Linked DNA regions of Homo sapiens. The protein of the gene in region 3 purifies or fractionates together with the protein of the main gene of each other region. This does not show direct contact. Each region holds a gene or a part of one and is shown on either strand. Other genes may lie near its edges. The genes, in order: PGD, REXO2, MDH1, SUCLA2, ME1, LACTB2 and PGM2.

What was found.
Region 1: the proteins of MDH1 (region 3) and PGD fractionate together in Homo sapiens (co-fractionation; one large-scale study listed by BioGRID). This does not show direct contact.
Region 2: the proteins of MDH1 (region 3) and REXO2 fractionate together in Homo sapiens (co-fractionation; one large-scale study listed by BioGRID). This does not show direct contact.
Region 4: the proteins of MDH1 (region 3) and SUCLA2 fractionate together in Homo sapiens (co-fractionation; one large-scale study listed by BioGRID). This does not show direct contact.
Region 5: the proteins of MDH1 (region 3) and ME1 purify together in Homo sapiens (co-immunoprecipitation; one study listed by IntAct). This does not show direct contact.
Region 6: the proteins of MDH1 (region 3) and LACTB2 fractionate together in Homo sapiens (co-fractionation; one large-scale study listed by BioGRID). This does not show direct contact.
Region 7: the proteins of MDH1 (region 3) and PGM2 fractionate together in Homo sapiens (co-fractionation; one large-scale study listed by BioGRID). This does not show direct contact.

Annotation. Positions count from the first base shown.
Region 1 is NC_000001.11:10,402,064-10,405,563, reverse strand, and holds part of PGD (6-phosphogluconate dehydrogenase, decarboxylating), read right to left. Parts: intron 2,494-3,500; coding exon 2,428-2,493; intron 1,404-2,427; coding exon 1,285-1,403; intron 1-1,284. UniProt on the Homo sapiens protein: Catalyzes the oxidative decarboxylation of 6-phosphogluconate to ribulose 5-phosphate and CO(2), with concomitant reduction of NADP to NADPH.
Region 2 is NC_000011.10:114,442,467-114,445,966, forward strand, and holds part of REXO2 (oligoribonuclease, mitochondrial precursor), read left to right. Parts: intron 1-1,389; coding exon 1,390-1,467; intron 1,468-2,074; coding exon 2,075-2,186; intron 2,187-3,500. UniProt on the Homo sapiens protein: 3'-to-5'exoribonuclease that preferentially degrades DNA and RNA oligonucleotides composed of only two nucleotides. Binds and degrades longer oligonucleotides with a lower affinity.
Region 3 is NC_000002.12:63,595,463-63,598,962, reverse strand, and holds part of MDH1 (malate dehydrogenase, cytoplasmic), read right to left. Parts: coding exon 3,444-3,500; intron 1,565-3,443; coding exon 1,389-1,564; intron 1-1,388. UniProt on the Homo sapiens protein: Catalyzes the reduction of aromatic alpha-keto acids in the presence of NADH. Plays essential roles in the malate-aspartate shuttle and the tricarboxylic acid cycle, important in mitochondrial NADH supply for oxidative phosphorylation.
Region 4 is NC_000013.11:47,987,774-47,991,273, reverse strand, and holds part of SUCLA2 (succinate--CoA ligase [ADP-forming] subunit beta, mitochondrial precursor), read left to right. Parts: intron 1-2,292; coding exon 2,293-2,392; intron 2,393-2,570; coding exon 2,571-2,733; intron 2,734-3,500. UniProt on the Homo sapiens protein: ATP-specific succinyl-CoA synthetase functions in the citric acid cycle (TCA), coupling the hydrolysis of succinyl-CoA to the synthesis of ATP and thus represents the only step of substrate-level phosphorylation in the TCA.
Region 5 is NC_000006.12:83,228,552-83,232,051, forward strand, and holds part of ME1 (NADP-dependent malic enzyme), read right to left. Parts: intron 381-3,500; coding exon 275-380; intron 1-274. UniProt on the Homo sapiens protein: Catalyzes the oxidative decarboxylation of (S)-malate in the presence of NADP(+) and divalent metal ions, and decarboxylation of oxaloacetate.
Region 6 is NC_000008.11:70,655,686-70,659,185, reverse strand, and holds part of LACTB2 (endoribonuclease LACTB2), read left to right. Parts: intron 1-1,303; coding exon 1,304-1,430; intron 1,431-3,500.
Region 7 is NC_000004.12:37,836,686-37,840,185, forward strand, and holds part of PGM2 (phosphopentomutase), read left to right. Parts: intron 1-843; coding exon 844-928; intron 929-2,887; exon of another isoform or gene 2,888-2,974; coding exon of another isoform or gene 2,975-2,998; intron 2,999-3,162; coding exon 3,163-3,246; intron 3,247-3,380; coding exon 3,381-3,500. UniProt on the Homo sapiens protein: Catalyzes the conversion of the nucleoside breakdown products ribose-1-phosphate and deoxyribose-1-phosphate to the corresponding 5-phosphopentoses.

The DNA.
Region 1 (3,500 bases), on a different chromosome or scaffold from region 3:
CCAGCCTTAAAGAATCATATTTCAGACCAGGCACGGTGGCTCACGCCTGTAATCCCAGTACTTTGGGAGGCCAGGGCAAGCGGATTGCCCACAATTATTTATATATATATCGGATTGCCCACAATTATTTATATATATGTGTGTGTGTGTGTGTGTGTGTGTATTTTTTGTTTGTTTTGTTTTGTTTTGTTTTTGAAACAAACTCTCACTCTGTCGCCAGGGTGAAGTGCAGTGGCGCGATCTCGGCTCACTAACCTCTGCCTCCTAGGTTCAAGCAATTCTCCTGTCTCAGCCTCCCAAGTAGCTGGGACTACAGGCGCACGCCACCATGCCCGGCTAATTTTTGTATTTTTAGTAGAGACAGGAATTTACCATGTTGGCCAGGATCGTCTAGATCTCCTGACCTGGTGATCTGCCTGCCTCAGCCTCCCGAAGTGCTGGGATTACAGGCGTGAGCCACCACGCCCGGCCAATTTATATTTTTTAATTAAAAAAATGTTTGTTTTACTTTTTTGTAGAAACAGGATCTCGCTATGTTGTCCAGGCTAGTCTTCAACTCCTGGGCTCAAATGATCATTCACCGCAGCTTCCCAAAGTGCTGGGCAGTGATTACAGGCATGGGCCACTATGCCCAGCCTGTTACCCACGATTATCACATTAAGTTACTTTTGGGTTATATATCAGCTAAAAGAGGCAGACCTTATTCCTACATCCAGACATTGCACAGAACATTACCTAAACTGCTTCCTTAAAGCCTATTTAGAGGCCAAGTGTGGTGGTTCATGCCTGTAATCCCTGCACTTTGGGAGGCCAAGGCGGGCAGATCGCCTAAGGTCAGGAGTTCGAGACCACCCAAGGTAACATGGTGAAACCCTGTCTCTACTAAAAGGCAAAAAATTAGCCAGGCATGGTGGCATGTGCCTGTAGTCCCAGCTACTCAGGAGGCTGACGCACAAGAATTGCTTGAGCCCAGGAGACGGGGGGTGCAGTGAGCTAAGATCTCACCACTGCACTCCTGCCTGGGCGGGAAAAAAAAAAAAAGCCTATTTAGAACGTCAGGTATCAGTCTTGATAGAAATAACAGAAGAAAAAAGGCAAAAGAGGATTGTGCACATATACTATATCAAAGCAACAAAATGTCTAGATAAAAGAAATTGCCAGCATCTCCCAGCTGTCACACTCAGGGCACCACAGAGATCAGGGTGGCAGAACTGCTCCTGGCTTATTCGTTCTCAAAGTCCAGCTCCCTTGTACAGAGATGGGCACAGTGCTGATGGCACTCACCACGCTTCTTTGTTCCCTCCTGGCATGAGCGATGGGCCATACCGGGCCCCTTCCTCTCCACCACTGACTCCGCTCCCCACAAATAAAATTCCCTTGGCCTTGAGGTCTCGGCACCGTCTCTGAAGGACAGAAAAATAATTTCATTATGCTTCCATGTTTCATTATGCTTCCATGTTTCATTATGCTACCCAAAAATGTTTCCCTTATAAATGAGAGGAAGTATAAGATAGGAATGGAGAGCCTACATTTACAGGAAATGACCCAAGGATCTAGGAATAACTGATGACTCAGGAAAGTTAATCCCCTATGTGTAGGAGTTAAAAAACAAAACAATACAACTATGGACATTCACGATACCTACCTCATCCCCAAAGTAAAATAATTAAGCCAAACACACATTGGCATTTTACTGGAAAAGACCTTGAATAAGACTCAACGAAGAGTAGGTGTAATACAACTTAATGCCATTCAGCACTTCAGAGCACACAGGAATTCCCTCAGCATTTGATACCATTAGAGGAGTGGTTCTAAACCAGTTATAGACTGACATATCATGGATTACTTGGAAGGGGAAGGGGAGGAGTTAAAACGTAATTCTCAGCCTGCTGTATCTGAGTTAGTCATCCTTTGAGTTGTATGTGTGACTGAGAATCTCACCCACCAAGTGTCTTTTTTTTTTTTTTTTTTTTCAGATGGAGTTTCACTCTGTCGCCCAGGCTGGAGTGCAGTGGCATGATCTCGGCTCACTGCAACTTCTGCCTCCCAGGTTCAAACAATTCTCCTGCCTCAGCCTCCCAAGTAGCTGGGACTACAGGCGCATGCCACCATGCCAGGCTAATTTTTTGTATTTTTAGTAGAGACGGGTTTTCGCCATGTTAGCCAGGATGGTCTTGATCTCTTGACCTCTTGGTCCACCTGCCTCCGTCTCCCAAAGTGCTGGGATTACAGGTGTGAGCCACCACACCCGGCCCTTCTGTTAAGTGTGTCTTAACAGAAAAAAAGGCTGAGAACTATTGTATCAGTAGTAATCTCAAAAAAATCAGTACCACAGGGCAGTTCACCCTACTGTCACATATGCGATGCTGACACTTTTTTCTAGAATGTTCTCGGAACCTGGAAGAATCTGGACTGAAGAACACTTACTGTGGTGTCCCTATATTCAGAATTTCCTCCGTCAATGATGATGTCACCAGTATCCAACAATGGTACCTGTAACCAGACACCAGCATTAAGATGGACCAAAAATGAAACATACCTTGGCAAATTAAAACAAACAAGAATTTATTCCAAATAAACATAGTCTAAAAAGAGTCTCGTTCTGTTGCCCAGCTTGGAATGCAGGAGTGCGAACATGGCTCACTGAAACCCTGAACTCCTGCAGTGGTGTGAACATGACTCACTGCAACTTTGAACTCCTTGAACCACAATGCCCAGCTAGTTTTAAAATTTTTTTTGTAGGCCAGGCGCGGTGGCTCACGCCTGTTATCCCAGCACTTTGGGAGGCCGAGGTGGGTGGATCATAAGGTCAGGAGATCAAGACCATCCTGGCTAACATGGTGAAACCTCGTCTCTACTAAAAATACGAAAAATTAGCCGGGCGTTGTGGCAGGCGCCTTGTAGTCCCAGCTACTCGGGAGGCTGAGGCAGGAGAATGGCGTGAACCCGGGAGGTGGAGCTTGCAGTGAGCTGAGATCGCAACACTGCACTCCAGCCTGGGGGACAGAGTGAGACCCCGTCTCAAAAAAAAAAAATTTTTTTTGAGATGGAGTCTCACCATGTCGCCCAGGCTGGTCTCAAACTCCTGGGCTAAAAGCCTCCTGGCTTGGCAGGAGGCCAACGCACCCAGCCTACTTAATCTTCAATAATCCTCTCTGTGGCCAGAGCTGCACACTATTTAAAAGTTTAGGGCTGACCAGGCTCAGTGGCTCACACCTGTAATCCCAACACTTTGGGAGGTTGAGGCAGGAGGATCGCTTGAGCCCAGGAATTTGAGACCAGCATGGACAGCATAGCAAGACCCCATTTCTATTTTTAAGTAAGTATACAGATTAAACACTGACTATAATGTGTCTAGAAGAGAGTGGGGATTCAGTAAATACATATCAAATGGTTTAGTGTATGAATGAATGATTTTATGACAACAGTTCGGAGGTCAGGAAGAGACAGAGCCTTGAACATGAATATCTACCTACAGCACACCAACCAGGCTGGGCTTT
Region 2 (3,500 bases), on a different chromosome or scaffold from region 3:
TTCGCAGAGATTACCAACACCAGTTTTCTTGTTTGGCTAAATCTCCTTTTTAGTAGTAGGATGTCAGGCGTATTTTAATTAAATTCTAGCCATTTCTTTCAGTGATTGTGAACTGTTTTTACCACCTTAGTAGTAATAATACCTTGGATTTATGGAATACTTTTCTATCAGAGAGTTCAAAGAGCTCATATCTATAATTTCTTTTATCCTGTTAACATTTCTATGAGGGAAGGGGTACAGTTTATTATTATCACTATCTTACAGAGGGAGAAGCTGAGGTGACTTGCTTTAATGCCGTAGCTACTGTTAACTGCCAGGACTTATCTGAGAGACTCATACTTGGATGTTCTATGAAATGGAGCTGAGAATTTGAGGGCTACTTTGTGTTTTGGATATCAACAATTACCTCTTTAATTTTTTTTTAAATATAAAAATACTGTTAAAACAGTGTAACTATCCAAAGTATGTGTGTAGTGAACTATTGGATTTTTGTCCTGTTCTATTGCTCCTTCTTACTCCAAGTTTATGTATTGTCTTGATATTTTGTATGTTTATATAAATGCGTGTTTTTTTTAAAACAAGTGTAAATGAAATCATACCTATACATACATGGTTTTGCAATTGTTTTTTTCACCTGCAATATAGATACTTTTTTTTTTTAAGAGATAGGGTCTCACCCTGTCACCCAGGTTGGAGTGCAGTGGCATGTAGCTCACTGTAACCTCGAACTCCTGGGTTCAAGTGATCTTCCTGCCTCAGCCTCCTGAGAAGCTAGGACTGTAGGGGTGTGCCACCAGGCCCACCTAATTTTTTTTTTTTTTTTTTTAATTTTGTAGAAATGAGGTCTTGCTATGTTGCCTGGACTGGTCTTGAACTACTGGCCTCAAGTGATCCTCCCACCTCGGCCTCCCAGAGTGCTGGGATTACCATGCTTGGCCTAGACACTTTTCAAAATGAACTCATAATCAAGGGTTGACAGACTTTTCTGGAAAGAGCAAGTTATTAAATTGTTTAGGCTTTGAGTGCAGTCATATGTTCTTGTCATATGTTCTTTTTTTTTTTTAAACAATCTTTTACAAATGTAAAAATCATTCTTAGCTTTCTAGCTATTAATAAATAGCTGAAGTGTGGGGCCATAGTTTGCTGACCCTTGATAGATATCTGTGTCATCTATTTGTAGGATTAGAGTTTTCAGTGGTGTGTGTATGTTCGTATGTTCTATTTTGCCTTAATGAACAGTGCTGGAATGAAGGGGGAACACTTAAAGTATCCTTATCTCTTACTTTCTCTGATATGTATATTTAGTCCTTAAAACAGCTTAAGCTTTCCCTCTGAAAGTAAGGTTATTCCTGTTGTTTCTTGGTGACTGATGGCGTTTCCCATCCACAGGGTCCTAACCTGATTATAAAACAACCAGATGAGTTGCTGGACAGCATGTCAGATTGGTGTAAGGAGCATCACGGGAAGGTAACATTACCAAATAACAGGATTGCTGCTTTGGGGATCAGTAGCAAGCTTTTTGCTCCCACACCTGAATCCGATACCATTGTTGGATGGTATTTTAAAAAGGCTTAGAGAAGATTGCATGGCAAGCCTGGGAAACTGCTTGCTTGTTTACTTTTCATCTTTGGGACCTCTCGAGATCATCTTCTCCTGAATGTCCTCTTTTTTTTCTCTCCTACATTCAGTCTGTCGCGAACGCATTGTGGATTGTCAAGTATTACTCAAGTCAGTCTTTTGGATAAGGTTAGACATCAACTTTCAGAGAAGGGGGATTGCTGCTCTCCTGTTAATAGTTGTTTCTTCCCAGAGGTTAATATCCTTGGACTTTGAACACCGTCTTTTTTGACTGTGGACATGCTATTAACAGTCAGGATCATAACTAAGTTGGCTTGGATTCTTGAAGAAAAAAAAATGGTGCAAAGATGGCAGTTGCAATTTGAACTTGAGCTCTAAAAATGGTCTATTTGTGGTTATATTTGCCCATTTTAAAAGTGAAATTTCATTTCTGGATGCCTTTGAAAACTGACTTTACATGTGTTTTTGGTGGGGGGCTGGGGATTCTCTCTTGCAGTCTGGCCTTACCAAGGCAGTGAAGGAGAGTACAATTACATTGCAGCAGGCAGAGTATGAATTTCTGTCCTTTGTACGACAGCAGACTCCTCCAGGGCTCTGTCCACTTGCAGGTAAAATCCAATCCTGTGTATATCTTATAGTCTTCCATATGTAGTGGTTCAAGAGACTGCAGTTCCAGAAAGACTAGCCGAGCCCATCCATGTCTTCCACTTAACCCTGCTTTGGGTTACACATCTTAACTTTTCTGTTCAAGTTTCTCTGTGTAGTTTATAGCATGAGTATTGGGAAAATGCCCTGAAACCTGACATGAGATCTGGGAAACACAAACTTACTCAATAAGAATTTCTCCCATATTTTTATGATGGAAAAATTTCACATGCACAGAGGAGTGGATTTAGTAATTGTTAACCTTGTGTCGTATTTGTTTTACCTATTTTTTGTTGGACATTTTAAAGGAAATTGCAGGCATCAGGACACTTCATTCCTAAATACTTCATCAAACATCTCCTAAGATAAAGACATTTTCTTATGTAATACAATGTCATTGCATTGAAGATAATTAAACATTATTCAGTATCATATGATATCTAGTCCACATTAGATGTTCCCCAAAATATTTGTTTTTGAACCAGGATTCAGTCAAGGCTCGTGCATTTCATTTAGTTATATTTCTTTAGTCTCTTAATGTAAAACTTTCCACCTATTATTTTTCCCCTGTGTCATTGACTTTCTAAAGAGACCAGGCCTGTTCTACCAGGATTTTTAAAAGGGTGACATTGCCAGAGGGAAGTTAATGTTTCTCTGAAGGTATATGTACGTTTGTATATGTAAGTCGATGTGGTAGCTAATACTGTTCTTAAACATTTATAAAAATAAGTTTTGGCATTAAGTACTAGAGCATATATTGTGTAAATGTTTCCGCCAGCCAATGTGGCTGATATCTGTTTTAAAGGTCTCATTTAAAATTTAGTGTTTTTAGTATAAGTTACTTTTTGGGGACATAAATATGCATATGATTTGTTTAAAAATTTGGATTGTAAATAAAGGTTTATCTACCTATGTGATTCAGTTAAATTTTTAGTGTTAGTGGTGTGAATTTTGTGACACTGGGAGAAAGTTTGCATATCAGGTATGACCTTAGAAAGTAACAAATAGATTTGTGCATTACATCAAGCATGTGGAATGATAGATTTGTCCTTCTGTTCATGAGAGGTCATTTACAAATTTATAAGGAGCTAAACTGACTAAGTACTTGGAAATCTGTACTTGTAAGCTAATCACATTTACCCAAACCTGATTTAGAAATATAGAGGTGCTTTTAGGAATTGTTTGAATTTTAAAAAATCATCTCCATTTCAAATACAACTTATGAATTTTGATATCCTGTTGTATAATACTAGAAATATAGAGATGCAGTATGCTTC
Region 3 (3,500 bases):
TTTATAGAAAAGTTACAACCATATTACAGAGACTGACTCCCATATATCTTTTTTTTTTTTTTTTTTGGTACCTCTTTTGACAAGCTGTAGACAAGATACTTCATTGTCTCTAAGTAGTGCAGTGCTGGCAAATATTTCTCACGAACAAGGACGCTTTGAAGAAGTGGAATTACTGTGCAAGGAGTACTTTACCTCCAAATAGCCTGCAATTTAGCAGTCTGAACAATCTTCTAATCTTTTACTGGCACCTGTGGATTTCTATTAAACTCATTTATACTATTTTCTGTGATGACAGAAAATAAGTTAACTATTTAAAATGAAGTGCACAGAAAGCAAAAAATGCAGATATCTATGAAATGTTATTGATAGAACATTATAATGGGCAACTTAAAAAATCTTAAAAAATTTTCTTTCACCTTTTTTTGAAAGATAGGAAAGTATATGGAAATCAGTTAAACCTTTAACCGGCAAGCCTATTTGCTGGGTGACAATTAAGTTCTAGTTAATTGATAGTTCACTAATAAAAGAAGGTTTGGCTGGGCGTGGTGGCTCACACCTGTAATCCCAGCACTTTGGGAGGCCAAGACAGGTGGATCACCTGAGGTCAGGAGTTCGAGACCAGCCTGGCCAACATGGTGAAATCCCGTCTCTACTAAAAATACAAAAATTAGCTGGGTGTGGTGGCGTGCAACGGTAGTCCCATCTACTCACGAGGCTGAGACAGGAGAATCGCTTGAACCCGGGAGGCAGAGGTTGCAGTGAGCCAAGATTGCACCACTGCACTCCAGCCTGGGTGACAGAGCAAGACTCCGTCTCAAAAAAATTAAAAAAATTAATAAAAAATAAAAAAGGCTTACTGTAATATTAAGACATATTAGAATCTAAAGTAAATAGTTTGAACACAAAGAGAGAACTATAAGTCATACTGACTCAATTCTTCAAGAGACAAGCATATTAAAATTCCTCTGCATTAAGAAAATCTGAGCATTCAGAAACCACTATCTTCTATTCCTGAGAATAAACTTACCTTACAGCTAGCTATCTCCTTTCACAATCACACACAAATTTAAATGTCTAAATAAATATTCCCACGCAGCAAAAATGCACCAGAAGATCCTGTGCCTTCTCTATATGTTTAAGAACTAATACTAAATTTTCACGTTATACTAATAGGAAAAATATTTTTGAGCACTCTGAATATAGATTTCTATACTGTAAGAAAAAACCCAGAAAGGGAGAGCTTATCAAGCAAAACTCTAGAGCCGTATTTACTGATGATTGTACAGAACTAGAAAAAAGGGCAAATAATTTTGGTTTTGCTTAAATGCTAAAAGCATAAGTTTCAAATGCTAATAATGAAAAATCCCATAAAATACAGCATTGGTCACCTTAACTGACTTCTTGGCGTATTTATCTAAGGCTGCACCCTGGGATTTGAAGATTTTCACATTTGCTTTCAGTAAATCTTTTCTCTCCATGCCTTCCCTTCTTGGCATGGAGCCCACAAGAATGGCCACATCCAGGTCTTTGAAGGCAACGTCTTCTTTATCTGTTGCGATGACATCTGTGGACATGGCAATAAATACGCAGAGCTACTTAAACATCAAAGTTTGAAGTTTTCTTTTTCATATTGAATCTACCCATTAATTCTTTCACTTGTTGCAAGTGTTTACATATCACACTGATATACATTTCAGGAGCCTGAGAAAGATAATATATTAATTTAACAATCATAACATTAGAAATGTCAATAGATTTATTTTGCTTTTCCTGTTTCAATAATTACTTAAATGTCAAAACTCCATAGCTTTTATCTTTTATAATCATATATGATGCAAGGTATAATGATGACTTTTGAAGTGACACTTGTTATTCACACTAATTACCACACAACACAAAAGAGCAACTAATTCACCTAACCTTTAAATTACAATTACTTTAAGGTCTAAGACACCAATCACAAATTTAAAAATAATAAATGTTTATTGAGGAGTTTTGTGCCAGGATAATGCTAAGAGATTTATATTACTATCAAATTTAATCTTCTGATTTTATAGATGGAGACACTGAGGTTTAAAGAGATTAACTCGCCACCATCAAAAGATAATGGAGCTGTAATTCCAGCCTAGGTTGGTCCAGAGTTCAACCACTATGCTCCAGTGCTAGTACAATAAGCAAACATCACTTGCTTTTTGACTAAAGAACATAAGTCATCGCACTTCTTTGTTGATTGTATTAAAAAAGCTATGACCAACATTCAGCATTTTCACTGGAAAATTGGCTAGTTGCATCATAGTCAAGGCTGCCATAAGTCTGAAAATGGGCATAGACAGGAACACCAGTTGGAGAAAAAAAAATTATCTTCCTCTTTCCCAGTCACATGTCCTTATTTGCTGAACTTTCCCTTCCCTGTCATATTCATATCTGGCAGAGGACAAACCAACAGCAATCTGGGCCCTTTAGAGAAAAAGCACAGGGAACTCAGCAGAGAAAGGAATACAAATGGGAAAAAGCAGCAAAGCTGATTTGGAAAGAGCTGTGGGTGAGAAAAGGGAACCAACAGAATAGTGTGGGCAGTCATGTATTCTTCCACAGAACTTTGCAACCAAAAGACTTAGATGGCAGAGTATCCCTTCTAGCAAATGTTTATTCAACAGATGAAGAATTTTAAGGAAAGTTTTTCTTGGAAGGTATGTATTATTTTGCTTTGTGCAAACTTCTAGGAGAGTATCATTAATTAATCCTTACCAAAAGAAAGACTATGATGAAGAAATAGCTGAAGAAAAATATTTAAATTAATTTAGAATATTTTAATAAACTTTTCGATCAAATTTAAGGCTTCCTTATTATATCTGTGTTATAGTTCAATGATTTGCAAAGGCCCTTAGCTGAGCTCTTCTGGGTTTTTTCAAACTATAGAGCATATGGTAAGGACAATTTACACTATGTCTCAACCTGATGATTGGTAGATGGGATGGGGACCGTGTAAGAGGAACCAACCAACTTCCAGAGCAATGTATAGCTATGAAGGACATCCTTCAAAACTGAGAAAGTTTTCCATTACAGGATGCTACTATTACCAGTTAAGCAGACTCCATAACAACACAATGTAGACAATTCCTACGTTGTCTATAATGTGTGTGTGTGTAGACAATTTCAGGTGTATAACCCTTGTGCAATATTACACTTAACTGGTATAATAAATTATATACACACACACATTGGGGAAAAAAGGATAGTCCTTTACCTGACATTGATTGTTGCTCATTTCTTACCCTTATTTATCCTTGGTATACATAAGTAGTTAATAAACAGTGGTAGTTCAAAATAAAAAAATCCTCTTATGAAATAATTTCTAATTGAGAGCCTTTAACAAAAACCTAAAACCTGTATTTTGTAAGAAATCAAATACCATAAAATCCCTTCTCTACTCCCCAACCCACCTTTCAGGAGGGGAAGGGCACAGTCTTGCAGTTCCATTAGGACACCGTCCAGGACAC
Region 4 (3,500 bases), on a different chromosome or scaffold from region 3:
AGATAAAAAGTGTAGAGGGTATTATAAGGTCTTCTAGGCCATTGTAAGCACTTTGGCATTTAACTGAGTGAGACTGGCATTCAGTGCAAGGTTTTAAGTAGAGGAATGGTGTGCCTGCTTTGGCTGCTGCCTTGAGAATATTCTGTGGGGGACAAAGGTCATATAGTTAAGAGATAGTGGTGGTTGGGATCAGAGTCTAAACTGCAGGTGATGAGGAATGGTGAAGATTCTGGATAAATTTGAAGATAGAACCAGTATGATTTCCTGGCTGAATGGAAGTGGGGTTTGAGAAAGACAAGTTTTTTAAACACTCTCTTGGCTGACTACGCATAGGGTCATCATCTGGTTTAAATAGCATGTATTTCTGGTGAAGGCTTACATCAGTAATTTTCTAAATGTTCTTTTAAAATAATTGTTAATGTGTAAACTTTAGGTTGTTTTTGTTTGGTTTCAAACTCCATTTCCTACCTCATTGATTTGGTTGGTTCATCTGATTAGGTGGGAGCTTCCTCTCATTCTGCTTGATAAATGCATCGTGGAGTGACATCCTAGTTGTAGAGGACTCTACTTCAGTCTGTTCAAATCCATGTTTATGGAGTAGTTGTTATATCCCAGAGACTTCCTTGTGCTTGGGATATAATGAATACAGTGAGACCTTTAGCCCTGATCTCAAAGGTTATTTTGCCATAATGTATAGTTGGTGCCACCCTGCCAGTGTGGGCAAAATGCTATGAGAGGCAAAATGAGGAGGCTCTGAATTCTGCCTGTCTGGTACACAGAGAATGCCTTTCTAAGAGGTATTACTCTTTTTTTTTAACTGATACATAATATTTTTGTGGTACATGTTATATTTTGTTACATGCATAGAGTGTGTAATGATCAATTCAGGGCATTTAGGATACCCATCACCCAGAGCATTTACTCTTTTGAGACAGCCTTGCTCTGTCCTCCAGGCTGGAGTGCAATGGCACAATCTTGGCCCATTGCAACCTCCGCCTCCCGGATTCAAGTGATTCTTGTGCCTCAACCTCCCAAGTAGCTGGGATTACAGACATGTACCACCATGCCTGGCTAATTTTTGTATTTTTAATAGAGATGAGATTTCACCATATTGGCTAGTCTGGTCTCGAACTCCTGGCCTCATGTGACCCGCCTGCTTCAGCCTCTCAAAGGGCTGGGATTACAGGAGTGAGCCACCGCACCGGGCCCATTTACTCTTGATCATGAATGATGAGTACTATCTAGGCTAAACAGCCAGTTTGCTGGTTTTCCACAGCAAATTAGAAAGGAGAGGAAAAGGGATAAATAGTAATCAGTCTACCTGTTAAAGAAGAAAAATTCAGTCCATTTATTTAAAAATATGCATAAGCTTTGCAAGCATAGAATTCTGAAATCTTTTGATACAGATACCTTAATAACTCCTGATAGTACTACTCATGCAGTACTGCTCAATAATGTATTTTAATAGAACTTTCTCTTAGTGGGACAGTATAAATCAGTATCAATACTGGTAATGGTAATATCCCCCAAATCATGACATATTCCTGCTATAGCGATATAACTCAGATGTTCTCAGGACAGCAAGTTTACATGTGAATAGAGAGGGAGGGACGTGTTAGGAAGACATGAAATTCAATTTTGTACTTTTGATACTTTCCAGAGTTCTAGATGACACTTTCCAAAGTGTCAAGAAATGGTTAAATTATTTTCAGTTTACTTTTAAGAAATGGTTTAATGTGGCCAGGTGCGGTGGCTCATGCCTGTAATCCCAGCACTGGCTCACGCCTGTAATCCCAGCACTTTGGGAGGCCGAGGTGGGCAGATCATGAGGTCAGGAGATCGAGACCATCCTGGCTAACATGGTGAAACCCTGTCTCTACTAAAAATACAAAAAAATTAGCCAGGCATGGTGGCGGGCGCCTGTAGTCCCAGCTACTCGGGAGGCTGAGGCAGGAGAATGGCGTGAACCTGGGAGGCGGAGCTTACAGTGAGCCGAGATCGCGCCACTGCACTCCAGCCTGGGCGACAGAGCGAGACTCTGTTTCAAAAAAAAAAAAAAAGAAATGGTTTAATGTAAGTGACGAATTTTGAAAATTGTGGGCCTTTTAGACAGTGATTATTTTAGTGTTCTAATCTAGAAAATCTACATAAAGAGAATGCCTTATTTTTGGACATTGTGAATAAATTAGACTTGATTTAATAACACCTGTCAATATGTATGTTAAATAACAAAATACTATGTCTGGCATGCTGCTCCATGCTTCATATTTAATAGAAGTGTTTTTCTTCTAGGTTCAAAAGATGTCGTGATAAAGGCACAGGTTTTAGCTGGTGGTAGAGGAAAAGGAACATTTGAAAGTGGCCTCAAAGGAGGAGTGAAGATAGTTTTCTCGTAAGTCACATTTTTTAAGGAAAAATCATCCTTGTTAAAGACTGATTAAAGATTACTTATTGAATTGATGAAAATACTGAAATTTAAATATTAGATGAGATAAAATTTTGGCTATTATGTGGATTTGCTTTTTCTCAACTGGAGGAAAGAAAAATTTGAGTTCTTTTTCTTATTTTAGTCCAGAAGAAGCAAAAGCTGTTTCTTCACAAATGATTGGGAAAAAATTGTTTACCAAGCAAACGGGAGAAAAGGGCAGAATATGCAATCAAGTATTGGTCTGTGAGCGAAAATATCCCAGGAGAGAATACTACTTTGCAATAACAATGGAAAGGTCATTTCAAGTGAGTAATTGTAGACATGATACATACGGGATAAATTTATGACATTCAATTTCAAAAGTCCATTATTGTTTCTATTTATGTGGGAAAGATTTTAAAAGTACAAATTATAATCTGTTTGTATGTCATGAGCATGATATTTATGTCATTTAAAAAACAGCTTCTTTAATGCCGTAAAATTTGATATATAATATCATGATCTTAAAATTATAGGAAAAATTCTGCTGTAATAAATTTCATGGGATTCTCAAATTGTTAATTCACTAAAAGCAGCTTAAATCATCTCTGGATCATCTCCAGATTGAGAAAATTATATCTAGCATAGTAAAATATTCTAATGAAAGAGAAAGTTGCTGAACCCACTAGAAGAATGTGTATCCATTGCCTCATCTTCTGTTTTCTCAACTTCTTGGGTTTGTTTTTTTTTTTTTAATAGTTTCGGGTTTGTTTCACTATATGATTCAATATTTGGTAAATTGAGGGATGACATTAAGTAGCAAACAATATGGTTTTAAGGAGTATTACATTAGCACAGCTCTCCTCTCTTTATGGAACCTAAAATGTTGAACATAAAGCTTCTGGTGAAGAGAAAATCCCTTTATAGACCTGGTGTTTGGAAGAGAGCATTGATAATCATTTTATACTAGAATTATCTGTTTTTCGAGGGTATTAGGTTTTACAAGCTGAATCTGTGTGTTAACTAGCTTGTTTTTTGAAGCAACTGGGTATATATTTGAAAGCCCCAGTACGGATTTCATGTAGAACATTAA
Region 5 (3,500 bases), on a different chromosome or scaffold from region 3:
TATCTGGAGTAATCAAGCCTAGAAAAGTGCTGAACGTGCCAGGTATTAACAGGCTGAGTTAGAGGAGGGGGCCATACGCTTCATCTCAGATCAGTAAGAGAAAGACGACAGGACTAAAGTTAAAAATCTAGGTCTCTACAGGGTACTGTCGCTTGAGCGAACGTGTAGTTTTTTGAATTCAAAAAGGCTAAATTATACCTCAAAAATTGGTAGTAAAAAAAACAATCAGGTCAAAATAAGGGGTAGGGGAGAAGGGAGAGGAGAAAATGCTTACCTATGAGGGCAGTTGGTTTTATTTCTTGAACAATGGCTTCTAGGTTCTTCATTTCTTCATGTTCATGGGCAAACTTCTCTTTCTCTTGTGTTAAGGAAGCACGTCCCTAAGTAAAGCCAGTAAGAAAAAATTAAGAATCTGCCAAACATGTGAGGGTCAATAAATTTCGGTACATATATTACAAATATTTATGCTTAACATTTTTATGTATGATGTGTTACAGCTATTCTTAAAATCTCTTCTTCAATTGTCAGAATGTTATTTCATTCATTCGTTTAACAAATATTTATATGTCAATGTTCTAGGCAATGGAGATGTAACAGTGAACAAAACAAAGTCCTTCATTTAATTGATATTAAAAATCCTAATTTTACAGACATGTGAGAACTAGCATTAACAAATGGCCATGCAAAATATAATTTAAATAATTATATTGTTCGTCACACATTGTGTTTTATAGCAGGTCTCAGAATTTGGAGTTGGCTTCAGCTTTAGCCCTACCAATTTATGCTACTGACTAAGAAAAGAATTTGAAGTCATATTTATGTCATTGTTAGATTTTCTCAGTAAGTATGCATTTTATATGTTTTTGTTTTTAATGTTCTGATTATGAATGCGCCATGTGTTATCTAGTAAACATCTAATTATAATATTCTAGCTGCAAATTTTAAAGATTTGACTACATAATGGATCACTGCCTAATTTTATATGGTACTTGATGACTTACAAGTTGTTTTCACATATTTCATTTGATCCCCTCAACAATTCTGAGAAGCAGGACAAGTATAAGTATAGTCATTTTACATATGCGGAAACATGTTCAGAGGTTTTAAGGGACTTGCTCAAGGCAAGAGATTGTACTAGAACTCAAAGCCTTTTCAATATAGCACAGAATCACCCCGGGCAAAAACTTAACAAATAGTATGTCATAGTCTTTGCAAATTGTTAATAATGAAGATAGTACAATTTTCTTTCTTTAAAGGGTATTATCATTTTATTTCTGTTGCTTTTGTTTGTTTGAAATGAGGTCTCATTTTGTCATGCAAGTTGGAGTGCTGTGGATCAGAGGTCACTGCAGCCTTGAACTCCTGGGGTCAAGGGATCCTCCCACCTAAGCCTCTCTAGTAGCTGGAACTACAGGCATGCACCACCATGCTTGGCTAATTTATCATTTTTTTTTAGAGATGGGGGTCTCGCTATATTGCCCAGGGTTGTCTCGAACTTCTGGCCTCAGGAGTGATCTTTTCGCTTCAGCCTCCTGAGTCACTAGGATTATAGGCGTGAGCCACCATGCCAGGCTCTGTTTTTTTTTGTTGTTGTTGTTGTTGTTGTTGTTTTTAATTTTGTTTTGTTTGTCTTTTTTTTTTGAGACAGAGTTTTTGCTCATGTTGCCCAGGCTGGAGTGCAGTGGCGCGATCTCGGCTCACCGCAACCTCCGCCTCCCGGGTTAAAGCTATTCTCCTGCCTCAGCCTTCCAAGTAGCTGGGATTACAGGCATGTGCCCGGCTAATTTTATATTTTTAGTAGAGACAGGCTCTGTTTTTAAAAGCAATATACTGAATTATTAAAAAATTTGAAACATATGAACCTCTTTGTGCTTGTCTCCTCATCTGTAAATAAGGATAATAAGGACTTCTACCTCATCAGGTTGTTTGTGGGGTAAATGAAATGTAATGCATGTAAAACACTCAGGACTGTACCTGGTTTATAGTAAGAGCTCTATGCTAGTTGTTGTTGCAATTAAAATTTTTGTGAAGAAGAAAAAAATCATAATTCCAGCACTTAAAGTTTTGGTATATTTTCTCCTATTAATAATCTGCTGTAGGCCAGGCGCAGTGGCTCATGCCTGTAATCCCAGCACTTTGGGAGGCTGAGGCGGGCGGATCACGAGGTCAGGAGATCGAGACCATCCTGGTTAACACGGTGAAACCCCGTCTCTACTAAAAATATACAAAAAATTAGCTGGGCGTGGTGGCAGGAGCCTGTAGTCCCAGCTACTCAGGAGGCTGAGGCAGGAGAATGGCATAAACCCAGGAGGCAGAGCTTGCAGTAAGCCAAGATCACACCACTGCACTCCAGCCTGGGCGACAGCGAGACTCTGTCTCAAAAAAATAAAAAATAAAAAAAAGAAATGATTAGCCAGTTTTGAGAATCAGTGTACTAAATGATCTATCATATCCCTACCACATGCGTTTTTAAGAGGTTATGTGCTATGTTTTCAAAAAAGTATACAATAATGAGTCTAAAGAAGAAAAGCTATAGAATAAGATAAATTGGAAGTCACAGCTTTTTTGGCTGTCAAGCTGAGATATAATGAAAAATATTTAAATTGCCTAGAATGGGAAACAAATAATAAAAAAGACAGATGAATAATGTATGAAAAGAAAAAGATATATACTTAATCATAAACATCTTTATTAATCATAGTATACCCACTGGCAGCTCCTAGACACTGAAGCCAGAACTTAGCCAGAAGACATTCCATCTAGTAAGAAGCATAAATTACCCATGGCAACACTTTCAAAGGCTTGATTCCTGGTATGACTTACAAGTGCTGAAAGAATGCTGAAAAAAGTCCAGGAATCACGAAATGGTAATACTAGCAATACTGAAGGTCTTACTTGACAAAACAGAAGAAGCAAAAGACACACACACAAAATGTCTCCCAAGTATGTTCTCTACCATTTTCAAAATTGACTTGATGACCTAGTTTAAAGAAACTACTGGAATGTGACAACCTTTTCTAAATCCGGTAATACTGAGGCAACTACCTGTACCTTTGGACTTCTATTTTCTAGACTAATGGCTTATTTTTCTTTATTTTTCAAAATCTGATTTGGAATACATATTCGTTATGCCAATAACTTCAGTTGGTATGGAGATGAGTAGATGTCTTTTCCCTTCATTCTCCCTTTTCAGGATCCCTTGCTGAAATCCTTTTGCCTTCTTTTGGCAAAGTGCATGTGGGCACCTCTCACCTCAGAAATCCCAAATTCTATGATGCATCTTTTCTCTCTCTGTTTTTTTCAAGAGTCTCTAATTACCTCAAACATATTATGGATAGCTGAAACTTTATTTGTGATATTATTACTTTAATCTCCCCTATCCCTTTATATTGTGATGATTCTTACTATATCGTAGAAGATATAACCAGATTTAATTACTACCTTTTCAAAAGCACATGTTTATAGTGGGCATAGGGAGGAGAATGGGGGCAAAGGCTGCC
Region 6 (3,500 bases), on a different chromosome or scaffold from region 3:
TTGTAAAAGGCAATTTGAGACCCTTTCTGATCTGAGCTTATCTTACCTATCCAACTTTATCTCCACTCTTCCTAGCCAGTATTTTGCAGTAGAAAGTTGGTAGCATTATGTTGTCACACATATGTCATGCTCATTCTCATTTTAATGCTTTATTTTTTTGAGACAGAGTCTCGCACTGTCGCTCGGCCTGGAATGCAATGGCGTGATCTTGGCTCACTGCAACCTCCGCCTCCTGGGCTCATTCGATTCTCCTGCCTCAGCCTCCCGAGTATCTGGGACGTTAGGTGCACACCACCACACCTGGCTAATTTTTTTGTATGTTTAGTAGAGATGGGGTTTCACTATGTTGGCCAGACTGGTCTCGAACTCCTGACCTCGTGATCCTCCCACCTTGGCCTCCCAAAGTGCTGGGATTACAGGTGTGAGCCACCACGCCTGGACTTAATGCCTTTTCTAATGCTGTTCCCCTTACCTGCAAGTCCTTCTCTGTACCTTTACCCATCCTGCTCATTCTGTAAGTCACACCTCAAGTTCTATCATATTTATAAATCCTTTCCTAACTCTCTCTGAACTCCTGCTGCCTTTATTAGCCGAATTGTCCATTTAATATTCATTAAATGGTACCAAGTATAGTTCTTTGTTTCATGTTTGTAAGTTTTAGTTTCCCAATCAGGACAGCTTTTAAGAACTTTGATATCACAGTGGTTGTATTCAGTATACCTAGTATACTGGTTAGTTAATTGGCACTCAATTGTTAATTGGTTAATTAATTTATTTTCTTTGTGTCAGTGAAGGGTGGTATAGATTTAGCTTATTTTAAAGGTTTAATATCTTAGCCACTGGTTTGGGGCTTCATTTCAGTACTTGTAGCAAGGACCTCATGCTTTCGTTATTAATTAATGTTTATCCTTTTGTTATTAATTACTGTCATGACACCTTTGCTACATGTTAGGCACCTGGATAGAGAAGAGTTTCCAGGTTCTGTATTAGTGCCTCTTCAACACTTGTCAGGATGCCGAAGCTAGCTACTTTTAAATTTTTTGTATAAACTAGGACTGACTCAAAAAATAGAGGCTTTCATGTAGACCTAGAGGGGCATGAAAGAATGAAGAGCTGTTTGGTTGAAAGATATGAAATATTTACATCCCAGAGATAACCTGCTGTAATTCATCCCATTTTCTGTTGTCTCTTAATGTTAATATTTTATGCAGTCATTCACAAGTGTTAGCTCTATGAAAGTTGATCTCTTAAAAGGCTTAATTATAAAGTGTGAATTAATATATTTTATATGTTTTATGACTAGACACTACCTATTGCATTAAAAAACTCCCACGGAATCCTCAGAGAGAAGAAATTATAGGAAATGGAGAGCAACAATATGTTTATCTGAAAGATGGAGATGTGATTAAGACTGAGGGAGCCACTCTAAGGTAAGTAAATGTCCCTTAGCCAGGGAAGGTGAAGAGTCTGTGTATGTGTGTTATAGAAAAGGATGGAAGGATCCCAGCATTTTGGGAGGCTGAGATGGGAAGATCGTTTGAGCCCAGGAGTTCAAGACCAGCCTGGGCAATACCAAAAAAAAATTTAATTAGCTGAGCATGGTGGCACATGCCTATAATCCTGCTATTCAGGAGGCTGAGATGAGATGATTGCTTGAACCTGGGAAGCAGAGGCTGCAGTGAGTCAAGATTGTACCACTGCATTCCAGCCTGTGCAACCGAGTGAAACCCTGTCTCAAAAAAAAAAAAAAAAAAAAATAGAAGATCTGTGCATATGTGCTGGTATGTGTAAAGAGTACATCAGGAAGGATACAAAAGAAATCCAATAAACATTGCTTACTCTGGGAGGAGAAAATGAGTTGCTTGAGAAATGAGAAAAGAAAGACTTCACTCTTTATTAAATTGTTTATTTGAATCATATGATTACCATTGTTTTAAAAAATAAAATTTACACTTTAAAAAATAAGTGTTGTCTCCCAAGGAGGCTTAGGGATCTACCTATCAATTCAATTCAGGGCTTTCCCATATTCTCACTTCCCAAAGATGACCCATACCTAAATTAAATAAGTTTTAGGCCTGACCGATCATACCTCATGACCTATCTGAGGGTTTCAAAATGGTATTTCAAACTCAGTTATTGTAAAACTGAACTCCTCTCTCCCCCACAATCTGCACCTGTTTTCTGATCTCAGAACATCCACTTTTCTCAGTATGTAAGACTTTACTCATTCTTCTAAGACAGAGGCTTCAGGATTACCTTGCACTGCTCTTCACCTTTACCATCCCCCTCCCCTTGCCCACCACACTAATCAGGTTAGTTTTTACATCAAAAATATTTGTCAGCTGACACAAACAAATGGAAACACATCCCAAGTTCATCTCTGGGTAGGATCAGTATTGTGAAAATGACCATACTGGCAAAAGCAATCTACAAATTCAACACAATCCCCATCAAAATACCACCATCATTCTTCACAGAATTAGAAAAAACAATTCTAAAATTCATATGGAACCAAAAAGAGCCCACATAGCCAAAGCAAGACTAAGCAAAAAGAACAAATCTGGAGGCATCACACTACCTGATTTTAAACTATACTGTAAGGCCATAGTCACCAAAACAGCATGGTACCAATATAAAATAGTCACATACACCAATGGAACAGAACAGAGAACCCAGAAATAAACCTAAATACTTACAGCTAACTGATCTTTGACAAAGCAAACAAAACCATAAAGTGGGGAAAGGACATCCTTTTCAATAAATGGTGGCGGGATAATTGGCTAGCCACATACAGAGAATGAAACTGGATCCTCATCTCTCACCTTATACAAAAATCAACTCAAGATGGATTAAGGACTTAAACCTAAGACCTGAAACTATAAAAATTACAGAAGATAACATTGGCAAAACCCGTCTAGACTTTGGCTTAGGCAAGATTTCATGACCAAGAACCCGAAAGCAAATGTATTAAAAACAAAGATAAACAGTTGGGACTTAATTAAACTAAAGAGCTTTTGCATGGCAAAAGGAACAAACAGCAGAGTAAACAGAAAACCCACAGAGTGGGAGAAAATCTTCATAATCTATACATCTGACAAAGGACTAATATCCAGAATCTACAATGAACACAAATCTGTAAGAAAAAAACAAGCCCATCAAAAAGTAGGCTAAGGACACAGTTCTCAAAAGAAGATATGCAAATGGCCAACAAACATGAAAAAATACTCAACATCACTAATGATCAGGGAAATACAAATCAAAACCGCAATGCAATACCACCTTACTCCTGCAAGAATGGCCATAATCAAAAAATCAAAAAACAGTAAATGTTGGTGTGGATGCGGTGAACAGGGGACACTTTCTACACTGCTGGTGGGAATGTAAATTAGTACAACCACTATGGAAAACAGTGTGGAGATTCCTTAAAGAACTAAAAGTAGAACTACCATTTGATCCAGCAATCCAGCTACTGGGTGTCTACCCAGAGGAAAAGAAGTCAT
Region 7 (3,500 bases), on a different chromosome or scaffold from region 3:
TCTAAGTAAATCGCTCATTTATTTGTGGTAACGTATTTTACACCAGCTTGAAGGAAGATTTGATGCCATTTTCTGCGTCTTACCCTAAGCAAGTTTCTGTGGAAGTTGAGAAAAATGTCAAAGAATTAAGTTTTCTTTCAAAGGCTGATTGGAACCAAGATGTATATATGTGTATGGGTGTGTGTGTGTGTGTGTGTATACACACATGCGTACTCCAGGATGTCTTTATATTTCAAATAAAGCAATCTCTAATCAAATTCCAGTCTGTGTGGTGTACGCTGGATTGTGATAGGCTTAGGCTGGGATTTTCAGCCTCTGCACTGTTGACATGTGACTGCACAGTGGCTGGATGATCTTTTGTTGTGGTTGTAGGGTACATTGTAAGGTGTTCAGCAGCACCCCTGACCTCTCCCTACTAGCTGCCAGTAGCAACTCTCTCCATTTCCCAGCATGACAAGCAAAAATGTTTCGAGACATTTCAGATGCCTGGAAGGAGAAGGTGCAGACTTGCCCTGGCTGAGAACCACTGAGATAGACAGAGAGCTGAAAGGCCAGGAAGCAGCCTGGCTCTGCCACTAAGTGGCTGTTAGAACCGGGGAAAGGGGCCTGACCTTTCTTGGCTTTAGTGCCATTTCTATAAAACAAAAGAGTGAAATGAGATGACTCCTGAGAGTCCTCCAGCTTTACTGTCCCATGCCAGGGTAAAGATTATAATAAATGCTGTCCTTGATCTGGATGCTGCATTCACCCTAAAGAACATTCAGCATTCATTTCCTTCTTTCCATCACTCACAGTCCTGATCACTCAACTCTCCTTTTCTTCCCTGTCACTCTGCATTCTCAGGTTTGCCCGACTTGCTGCAACCACATTTATCAGTCAGGGGATTCCTGTGTACCTCTTTTCTGATATAACGCCAACCCCCTTTGTGGTAAGTAGCCATTTCCTTTCATAATTTCCTGTCACATGATCAGGGATGGGACTTGGCTGAATTTTATAGTCTTTAGGGCTATTGGGATTGGACTGTTTGAATGACAGAGGAGTTCCTTGGCATGTATGAGACATTTCCTTCTCTCCTGGAATGTTTCTCCCACATCTTAGTAATATTTCTCTGGTATTCAACTTTTGATTCATTGGAATTGGTTTTTTTAAATTGCAGTTTTCCTTTTCTTTGCATTCTAAGGGTATTCGAGAGAGTCAGCAAATTTTTTTTTTTGAGACAGAGTCTCGCTCTGTTGCCCAGGCTGGAGTGCAATGGTACGATCTTGGCTCACTGCAACCTCCGTGTCCCGGGTTCAAGCAATTCTACTACCTCAGCCTCCCAAGTAGCTGGTATTACAGGTGCCTGCCATCACTCCCAGCTAATTTTTGCATTTTTAGTAGCGACGAGGTTTCACCACGTTGGCCACGCTAGTCTCGAACTCCTGGCCTCAGGTGATCCACCCAGCTTGGCCTCCGGAAGTGCTGGGATTACAGGCATGAGCCACCACGCCCGGCCTTTTCTCTGTTTTTAAATTTGGTTTGTAGTTCTTTTTCTCAGCTATCACAATTAGGAAACTTCTTGTGTCGAAATCTGAATTCACCTCAAACCCTGTCTTGTCATGAATATTTTTGACAAGCTGGCACACCCCTGTTTTATACAAATGTTTTATTCTAAATACTATTCATGGCTAGTACAGAGAGCATGCTCGGCATATTTGAGTAAGACTTTCATCAAATCCTTCATGTAGCACAATCTAAAGAAGAAGACAGTAGGGACTATGACAGTTGTTGCTTTGACATAGACAAAACTTTTAAGAGCTGGGCCAGATGCTGAGAATATGTTTTGGAAAATGTGATTTGGATGCAGTTAGTCACATCTAGTAGAAATGAGACTGTATTGCTACAGAAGGAGGTTCCAATTCATTTTGTGTTTGCCGGCTCTAGTGCACTGACAGGTAGATGCAGCACCCCTAGGCTGTAAATAACCTGCTAGACACTCTATTCACATCTAAATGTAGTTCAGGTTTCATTGTTTGATGGAAAAATTGTCATGTATTCAAGCATCCTAATTACCTTCTGTACTAAGTGTTAATAGCTATTAATTTTATGTCAGACATGAATTGAACCAGTGTATCATGATCCTCTGCCCACACTGAGGAGTCGTCCTCCCCTTTTCTTTGGCCCAGAACACCTGAGAGATGTGACATAACTTCCAGGGTGTTCAATGACTGCAGTGATTCTTGGTGAAAGGGTGGAGGGGACGGACAATTTAAATCTCAGGTTGCCTGTGTGTAATCAATGTCATTTGCCACAGTAGGGGGAATAATCCAACCCCTTCTCCCATTTTGGGAAGTAGTAGAGATGGGAGCTAAGTTGAAATATAAATATTTAACCCTGGAGTGAGAGATAAATGAGGAACCTGTAAGAGCATTCTCCATTCCCTCAAATTTTTTTTTTTTTTTTTTTTTTTTGAGACAGAGTTTCGCTCTTGTCTCCCAGGCTGGAGTGCAATGGCAGGATCTTGGCTCACTGCAACCTCTGCCTCCCAGGTTCAAGTGATTCTTCTGCCTCAGCCTCCCAAGTAGCTGAGATTACAGGCGCCCATGCCTGGCTAATTTTTTTGTATTTTTAGTAGAGACAGGGTTTCACCATGTTGGCCAGGCTGGTCTTGAACTCCTGACCTCAAGTGATCCACCTGTCTTGGCCTCTCAAAGTGGTGGGATTACAGGCGTGAGACACCACCCCTGGCCCCTCAGTGTTTTCCTCAATGTTTTCCTTAAAAGCAAATGAGAAAGGAGGAGAGGGAGAAGCAGTTGGAGGGAGTAAACTGAATCCACAAACTTCTGTCTCAGGTAGAAGCATTGAAAGCATTGGAATGGAGGCTTAGACCATCGTTGTGTTTGAAGAATTTTCTAGCTCTACCAAGTAGAAGATGGAATGAGAAGGCACTGAGGAAATTACTCACCTTTCTTATTAGGAAATACATCCTGGAATTATGAGCAGCCAGTTAATTCTAAGGGTAATTGCATACTGCTGGGGTGTGGCTCAAAAATATTATGCTATTTATATATTATGTTTATTAAAAGGGAGCAAGTTGGCATGAACAGTATAAAATAGACATTTTAAGAATATCTGGTTATTTTCGTTAAAAACTGTTTGTTCTTGTTTCCTGCTATGTTACAGCCCTTCACAGTATCACATTTGAAACTTTGTGCTGGAATCATGATAACTGCATCTCACAATCCAAAGCAGGATAATGGTTATAAGGTATTTTCCTTTTTCTACTCCACACGTACATCCTTCTGTAGGAATCCTGTATCTGTAATTTTTGGGACCATAGGTAATAGGTGCCTTATTTCCATTAACTGTAAACCTTCTGAATGTGTTCCTGGGTCCTCTAGGTCTATTGGGATAATGGAGCTCAGATCATTTCTCCTCACGATAAAGGGATTTCTCAAGCTATTGAAGAAAATCTAGAACCGTGGCCTCAAGCTTGGGACGATTCTTTAATTGATAGCAGT